Linked DNA regions of Homo sapiens: region 2 is linked to region 1. The links come from fine-mapping of genetic effects on gene expression. A gene starts in region 1. The other region holds a variant in brackets. All regions are shown on one strand. Distances are between the middles of the regions.

Region 1 (4,396 bases):
CTGGCGACAGAGCGAGACTCCATCTCAAAAAAAAAAAAAAAAAAAAAAGAAAAAAGAAAAAAAAGAAAAAAAAAAGAAAAATATTTTCATAGCAATGGAATGCAATGGGAAAGAATGTTAAGACCAAAATGTCTGTACCTATTAGACTGTGTGCAAATTAAGGCAGACATGATATCTCTCCCTGGCACATGGTAAGACCCAAATTAATATGTGCTAACTGATCAACTGACTGACTTAAAAGATTCCAGTCAACTAAGAAAGGTTCTACAAATGGTTAGAAAAAAAGGAAAAACCAAACTATCATATATAATATAGAGCTCTCCATTTCTATAGTGAAAAAAACATAATAAACCAGAGAAGAAATATTACTTGTGAATGGAATAACAACTAAAATAATAAATTTTTATTTCTTTACCCTTTACAAAACTCACAGTTCTTTGAAGTGGATGTTCTTATTATCTTACTCCCATTTTAGACACGTGGACATGGAGGCTTAGAGAATCTGATGACTCGTCCAAGATCCCACAGTAAGTAAGGCACCTGGGAACCCAACCTTGTTCTTCTGGTTCCTAATTCTAGTGTTGATGAATTTATTTTTATTGAATGACTCGATACATGCTAGGGTTTTCATTTTCATCTGGGAATTTTAAATAGGAGTTGCTTGACACCATTTTCCTTTTTGTTGTTGTTGTTTAAAAGTTACTCAATTTTTTTTATTACACTTTAAGTTCTAGGGTACATGTGCACAGAAAACCAAACACCATTTTCAAGGTGGAAAAATTCAATAAGCATCTAGAAACGTTCAAGCATCACAGTGCAAATCCCTTCTTATTTTCTTGGACACAACTGGAGTTTTAAATTCCCTGCCAGCAGTAAAACCTGTTTTCCCTTCTTGGTTAAAAAAAGTTTCTGAAGTGGTACACTTTGATGGAGATCCAGGAATCCAAAATTACAGGCAGGAAAACATATTTTTCCTCTAGAAATTTTATGAGTGAAAGAAATTACTGGGGTATGAAGGGGTGAATTGTACATAACTTTTCATTGAATTGTTCAGTTACGATGATAACTTATGGGCAGGGGAGGAAAGGAACCTTGTCAAGCAAGGTGATGACTACTAAAAGGTTAAGTAATTTGGCTGACAAGTGCAGGCAGGGCTAGTTGCCTGTTAAAAGGATCCAAGATCACTTAAAAACCCCACCAGCAAGTTATCTATTTTGTTGCTTCTGGGGAATTGCTTCTTTCCAAGATTCAAAATCTCAGTAGTCATTATTTTTCCATACAAATACACAGACAGAATAATACTCCTAAATTAAATGGTCCTTGTGTGAGTCATCCTGACAGCTAAGAAAATGCCAGTCCAATTTAGAAAACACCTGAAACTCACAGATGGTCCTACTACTACTGCTGCTTGGCAAGAGCTTTGACTGACTCTGGAAAAACCGATTAAGGGAGTAATGAATGAGTAAAATGTAGCCTTCAAAACAGAGGCGCAGGTTGAAAAATTAAGTTCAACAGGTTTAAAGAAGTCTAAACTAGAAGGGTATTCCGACATATTGGTTAAGACAAAATGACCGTACATAAGAAGTCTAAATCGACAGGTATGGAACGTGGGCAGAATATTTCAAGGGATCCACTCCTCACATCTAGTTTTATAGCAACATCTCTAATGACAAGGACCTTGAGAATTCATAGCATGTCTTTTCCCCAAAACTCTATGCCTAACACCAACAAGTTCAACAGTCCAGGCAAGTGGGTGGCTAGTTTTGCTCTGGCAGGATCTAGGTCACTGATGTGCTTTAAGACCTGCCTTGAAAGCACAGAGATTATAACAACTCCTTAGTCCTAACCATGCTGATTTTGAGAGACAAGATAGAATTTTCTGCCACTGTGCTGGGTTCCCCTCTGAAATGGAGGCAAAAATAAGTCCAGATCACTGAGCAACCCTCTTAACATTGTTCCATGATGCAAAACTAAGTAGGTGGTTTAAACCAACTCTTTTCTCTCTTATGGCTGTTTAGCTGTCACTAAAGCTTTTGCCTAAGAAGCCTCCAGGTGCGCATATGTGACATCACACAAACAAACAAACAAAGATACAGAAAAATCTAGGCAGACAATAATAATAACCCAGGATATATGACAGCTGCCTGTTCAAAGTGTCCTACCAAATCTGGGACATCTCCAGTTTGGAGATCATGGCTGGCAGAGACCTGAAGTTTGTTCATGAGTCTTACCTCAAGCAGAGGAAGTGTCCAAAGCTGGAGAGCACCTTCGATTCTCTCTGCCTTTGAAGCTGATGTGTTCTCCACCTTGCGCCTTAAACTCAGCTGCTAAAAAGCCAAGATAATTAAGTCTGACTCATCTCAGTGGTGAATTTTTTTAATGCCTCTTTCAAAATGTGATACATAATTGCTTCACTACAATTACCCAATGGCATGAATGAGCACTACAGTATCTACCTAGATAAACAGACAGTGCCACCTATGCAATAATTATCTTCCTGCAAAACACACACACACACACACACACACACACACACACACCACTTGTGAAATTGTGATGGCTACTTTACCAAAATGATTGAAAACGGTGTTAAACTGCATTGGAAGAGGAAGAATTTTCCTGTCTGGAATCATAAGCTGGTTCCTTCTGGTCAGGGTGCCTGCGGTGGATGGCTCTACTACTGCCCAGAATACCTTTGGGACTTGTGGTGGATCATCAGATTCAGTCTGAAAGCATGAGGCTTGACAATCGGGCTGACCTAGTTACCTTATCACTCAGGGTAGGACCTCAGTTGGCATCTCTCAGTGTCCGTCCGCTCCTTTTCAGAATGTTATTAATGACTTACTGTTCCAGCATTCCTTAAACCTAAGTTGGGTGGGTGGGTTCATCAACTATTATGCAACTTAACATTTTCAGATTCCAAACTCCAGCCCTACTCTCATCTCCAATAAATTCATTTTAGTTAATGTGTTTTATCTATTTTTATTTTTATTTATTTATTTTTTGAGATGGAGTCTCACTCTGTCACCCAGGCTGGAGTGCAGTGGAGCGATCTTGGCTCACTGCAACCTCCGCCCCCTGGGTTCAAACAATTCTCCTGCCTCAGCCTCCCTAGTAGCTGGGATTACAGGAGTGCGCTACCACGCCCAGCTAATTTTTTGTATTTTTAGTACAGACAGGGTTTCGCTGCATTGGCCAGGCTGGTCTCGAACTCCTGACCTCATGTGATTGATCCACCCGTGTTGGCTTCATAAGTGCTGGGATTACAGATGTGAGCCATCATACCCGGCCATTAATGTATTTTAGATGGCCAGGGATTTGATTGTATGAAGTTTTTTTTTTTGTTTTTTGGTTTTTTTTTTTTTGAGACAGTCTCACTGTCACCCAGGCTGGAGTGCAGTGGCATGATCTTGGCTCACTACAACCTCTGCCTCCAGGGTTTAAGCGATTCTTGTGCCTTAGCCCTCTGAGTAGCTGGAATTACAGGTGTGCACCACCAAACTTGGCTAATTTTTGTATTTTTAGTAGTGATGGGGTTTCACCATGTTGGCCAGGCTGGTCTTGAACTCTTGACCTCAAGTGATCCACCTGCCTTGGCCTCCCAAAGTCCTGGGATTACAGGCATGATCCACCGCACCCAGCCTGATTGCATGAAGTTCTTATGGCTTATCTACACTTTTCTGGGTAAGACCCGGTGACCAACTGTCCTGGTTTCCCAAGAATGCAGGATTTTCAGTACTAAAACCAGAACAGTCCTGGGAAAATCAGGATGATAAGTCAGTCTGAAAGGAACCACAGACGCTTTCACTTGGCATTGTCCATACTTCTCACAGCTTCTCAGGGGAGTTATACCTTGGGTTATACTTACTGATTTGAACTGAGTTTCCTTAAGGTAAAGTGGGGATAGAAATAGTAACTTCCTTGATTGGTTCTGGTGAAGAAAAACATAATAACACATGAGAATGCGCTATTAAAACTGTAAACTGCTGTGAAATTCTACTCATTAGCACGTGGCCGTATCAATAATGATACGGTGCAGAGACGCTCTTCATGGGATCATTTATTGTCGGTCATCATAGATGAATTCATTCATTCAATCAACAGATTTACTGAGCACCTACAATGTGCAAAGTCCTCTTCAGCAAAAAAGATGAAATTTTTGTCCACGAGGAGTTTATGTTCTAGTCGATGGAGACAAAATAAATAAGCAAACAATAAAATAAACAAAAATGTATAAATTGTGACATGTACTGTGACGGAACTAAGGGAATGTTGTTGGTAAGGTGGTCTTGTAATAGGTAGAGCAATGCAACTGGGGGAGGTGGGCTTATTTTATCAGGATACCCACGTGGGCGTCTCTGAGGAGGTGATTATTTGCGCTGAGATGTGACCGTTG
Region 2 (4,396 bases), 22 kb before region 1:
GGCTAATTAAAAAAAAATTTTTTTTATATAGAAACAAGGTCTCACTATGTTGCCTAGGCAGGTCTTGAACTCCTGACCTCAAGCAATCCTCCCACCTTGGCCTCCCAAAGTGCTAGGATTACAGGAGTGAGCCACTGCGCCTGATATTTCTTAATCTAATGGGCTAGGTGCTGTGCCTGACGCTGGGGGCACAGCGGTGAGTCAAAGTTCCTGCACCCAAGGAACTCATAGTCTTGGGGAGTAGACAGATATATCAACAGGAAATTATAATACAACACAGCAAAGGCTGATCTAAACTGGGCTCCTGATGATCCTGCTACAAACTTGTTCTTAGGTTCTTTCCCATCTCAATAAATGCTAAATCCCTTCTTCCAATTTTCCAATTGCTTAGGGTTTTACCCACCAAAGTCACCCTTCACTCTTCTCCTGACCTACATTTGATCTGTTGCACAAAAACCACTGTCTTGACCTTCAAGGTACATCCAGAATCCCAACATGCCTTACCATCTTCATCACCCCACCCTAGGCCGGCCACCATCATTAATTGTATGGGTCACTGCACTCATCTCTTAAGTAGTCTCTTTGCTTTTGCCCTTGACCCCCTTCCTTCCTGTCTATTTTTTTTAGCACAGAAGCCAGACCGATCTCCTTAAACTGTAAGTTAAGTCATGCCGGCCTTACTCTTCAAAGGCATCCCATCTTAGATTAAGAGGTGGACTTTGCAGTCCCTACACATCCCTGAAGATCAAACCATCCCCTCTTCCCCATCTCTGGCCTCATTGCCTGCTCTCCCCCAACCCCCTGCTCCTAGTGTGTCCTTCTCACAGCCTCCCCAGCACACTTGAGATATTCAGCCTCAGGGTTTTTGTGCCTGCAGTTTCCTCGATCTGGAATCTTCATCTAGATTGAGCAGCAGCTCACTTTCTACTCCCTTTGGGTTTTTCTAGTAATGCCACCTGCTCAGTGGTGGCTTTCCTGGTCACTCTATCTAGAATGGAAATTCCTCTCCACCTCCTCCACTGCTTTATTTTTCTTCTTACCACTTATCACTGCCATAACTTAGATTTTACTTGTTTATCTTGCTTGCTGTCTGTCTCCTCCCACTACTCCCATGACGGCAGGTATGTCTGTTGCCTGGGAATACTGCTGCATCCCCAGCACCAAGAACAGTGCTCAGGCTATTTCAGGTGCTCAGCGCGCCATTGGTGAATGAATGGATGGAGTGCAAAGTGAGAGAGAGATGTCCAAAGTGTCATGTGAGCACAGAGGAGGCATAACTTTACGGAGTGGGGGCTGTCAGGTAAGGTTTCCTGGAAGAGGCTATGTCTGAGCTGGGTCTTAAATATAAAGAGGAGGGAACACAACATATAAAGAGAGATAGAGAACGGAAAGGATTAAATCCTCCAGGGTTTAGCACAGTGCTGGCTAAACTCTGCAGGTTTAGAAATGGGCACTCAATATGTATCTGTTAAAGCAGCGGTCCTCAACCTTTTTAGCACCAGGGACCAGTTTAATGGAAGATGATTTTTCCATGGCCTGGGGTTGGGGGGGATGGTTTCGGGATGAAACTGTTTCACCTCAGATCATCAGGCATTAGATTCCCATAAGGCACATGCAACCTAGATCCCTCGCATGCACGGTTCACAATAGGGTTCGCACTCCTATGAGAATCTAATGCTGCCACTGATCTGACAGGAGGCAGAGCTCAGGCAGTAATGCTCAGTCGCCTGCCCACTGTTCACCTCCGGCTGTGCAGTCCAGTTTCTAACCTGTCTGTGGCCCAGGGACTGGGGACTCCTGGGTTAAAGGAATGAAAGGATGGAGGAGAGAGGAAGCTCTTCCAGGCAGAGAAAACAGCAAAAGCAAAGGCAAGGGGTGAGGAGGGCAGTGGAAACAGTTTGATTGCTGGGGCAGAGAAAGGTAAAGAGAAAGATGAAGCAGAGAGAGGTAAGTAGGAGATGGGGTGTGGTGA[A/G]TCTTGTAGTCCATGCTAAGGTGCGAGGACTTGATGCTCAGGGCAGCCACTGCAGGCTGAGAACCCCAGAATAACCTGGTCAAGATCAGTGTTAATCCCTCTGAAGAGAAGGGATGTAATGTCACTGCTTGGGTTCGTGCTCGTGAGGGTTTAGTTCCTGAACCTACATCTCATCCCCCTGGAGCCACCCCTCTTGTGGCAGTGAAGTTAGTTATTAGCCAAAGAGTACATATGCCCTAAGCACAAGGCACATCCTCCCAAGCACCTTCCCGGGGCTCTAATTTGCAGAATATGAAGCAGGATGGATAGCTCAAGCTATACCGCCTTGAAAAGCAAACCCAGGCAGTACCAGCTTTTGAAGGTAGGAAGACAACCATCTGGAAAAGACAGTTCTAAGACTCACCCTCCAGTGTGCTGAGGTTGGCATTTAGCGCTTTGACTTCACTTGCAATAATGGGACAGAGCTGGCCACAAAGGAATAAAAAGAAAAAAGCAAGTTACCATGTTGTACTGGAAAGCCTTATTGATGGGCCTAGACCCTGCAAACAAAGGCCTTCTGGTTAGCAGTCATTATCCCTTTGGTCATCGAGACATTCTCTTAAATTTGTTGATGTCTATGGGCCTCGCTTTACGTAGATACGGGTGGTATGTCACTGAATGCCAGCTGAACTTTGTAGCAACTAGCACTACATCCAATCAGCCCTGTAAAGAGTGAGTGAGCCCTTGTCGTTTCTTTCTGTGACATGATAGGGCATGCGTCCCAGTCCATGCTGTTATACCCGAGGAACCTGCTGCTGGAGCTGCTGTATCTTTCCTGACTGCTGGGGGTGCCGCCAGCTTGCCATCTCCTCTAGGAGCGGTTGCATGCCCTACCTGGAATGGTTAGAGCTGGAGCTTTTTTTTTTTTTTTTTTTGAGACGAAGTCTCGCTCTGTCACCCAGGCTGGAGTGCAGTGGCGCGATCTCGGCTCACTGCAAGCTCCGCCTCCCTGGTTCATGCCATTCTCCTGCCTCAGCCTCCTGCGTAGCTGGGACTACAGGCGCTCGCCACTATGCCCGGCTAATTTTTTGTATTTTTAGTAGAGACGGGGTTTCACCGTGTTAGCCAGGATGGTCTCGATCTCCTGACCTCGTGATTCACCCGCCTCGGCCTCCCAAAGTGCTGGGATTACAGGCGTGAGCCACCGCGCCCGGCCCCAGAGCTAGAGCTTTTACTTTCCCCCTGGGCTAGTTGGAGAGCACATTATATCAGAGATCTACTTAGAGATCTATTTTGTTGCCACCTTTTTGGAATTTGAAAATTAGTCTTGAGTCACATTAATATTTTTAGGAAGGGGCAGAGGTATCAGCACTGATGTGCCTCTTGTGTGCTCATTGATGTGCTTGGCATAGTGGGTACAGCACAGGCTTGGCTGCCTGGGGCCGAGGGTTGAATCCCTTGGCAAGTTACTTGTATTCTTTGATCTCAGTTTCCACATCTGCAACATTTGCATGGGGATGATAATTGTGTCCACCTCATCACATTGTGAGTAGAAATGGAAGTAATCCATGTAAACTTGCCCAGCTTATAGTAAGCATTGAGTAAGTGTTAGCCGTTGTTAGTTTAACTCCATTTCACCTTCACTACAGCCTTGAGAGGGAGGCATGACGGTCCCCTAATTACAGATGGGAAAACCAAAGCTTAGAGAGGTTAAGTGAGTTGCCAGGTGTTGCATAGCCGGGATTTGAACTCAGTTTACACAGCTAGACAGCTGTGGTCTCAGCATTCTTTTCTATCTTCCAGTGGCACAGAGAGAATCACAGAAACATCTATTATCTTTAAGCCATAAATCAATTTCAGGCAAACTTAATTATTGGCTTCTGTGACATAACTCATTCTTCACTGGCCTCCTGTCAGAGGCAAAAGGACCGTGCCTCGTTTCAAACAGGGGAATGATCAAGTTTGGGGTCCTTGAGGATGACAGTGCACTTTGCCAGGGACTCTAATATGCACACTCATTGGCACTCAGCATCTGTCAGGTAAGGATGGAGAAGGACTATAAGGCTTCTGAGTCCTGGACAGCTGCGCCACCTCCTGGGATGAGCTGCTTGATGCTTCTGAGTGTTGATTTCCTTACGACTTTCATTAAGCACCTATAATGTCTGTCAAGCACCGAGCTGAGCACTAGAGAGATGGACGTGACCAGACCCTGTCTTTGTCCCTTCTTTTCCAGAAGAGTCTTCCTTCTTTTCTATTCCTCCTCATCCCTGTCCTTATCTCCCCCAAAATACAGGTAAACGGTTCAGGGAAGGTGTGGTCATTATTGGAAAGAGAGTGCATAGACAATTCCATCTTTCCCTTCTTCAGACACTGACTTCTGAGACTAGAAGCCTTATAGCTTTGGAAAGGATCTTAATATATTCTATTTTCTTAACTTATTCCTAT

Alleles and levels. Alleles are on the strand shown, and positions count from the first base shown. SD is a standard deviation of normalised expression in the study named.
For the expression in unexposed skin of the gene that starts at base 2,304 in region 1, G is the low allele of the variant in region 2 and A is the other (small effect, 0.14 SD a copy in GTEx).

The links. PIP is the estimated chance that this variant, and not a neighbour inherited with it, causes the effect.
Region 2: its variant is the best candidate, but not a certain one, in a credible set for the expression of BPIFC in unexposed skin (GTEx, PIP 0.57).

Annotation. Positions count from the first base shown.
Region 1 is chr22:32,462,143-32,466,538 of GRCh38, forward strand. BPIFC (BPI fold containing family C) reads right to left here and starts at 2,304. Exons shown (of 17, transcript NM_174932.3): 1 at 2,232-2,304.
Region 2 is chr22:32,440,296-32,444,691 of GRCh38, forward strand. It overlaps BPIFC (BPI fold containing family C), which reads right to left. Exons shown (of 17, transcript NM_174932.3): 8 at 2,376-2,436. Among named protein-coding and RNA genes, the nearest start is that of BPIFC, 22 kb to the right of the region's middle. The variant A/G (reference allele first, on the strand shown) is at 1,973.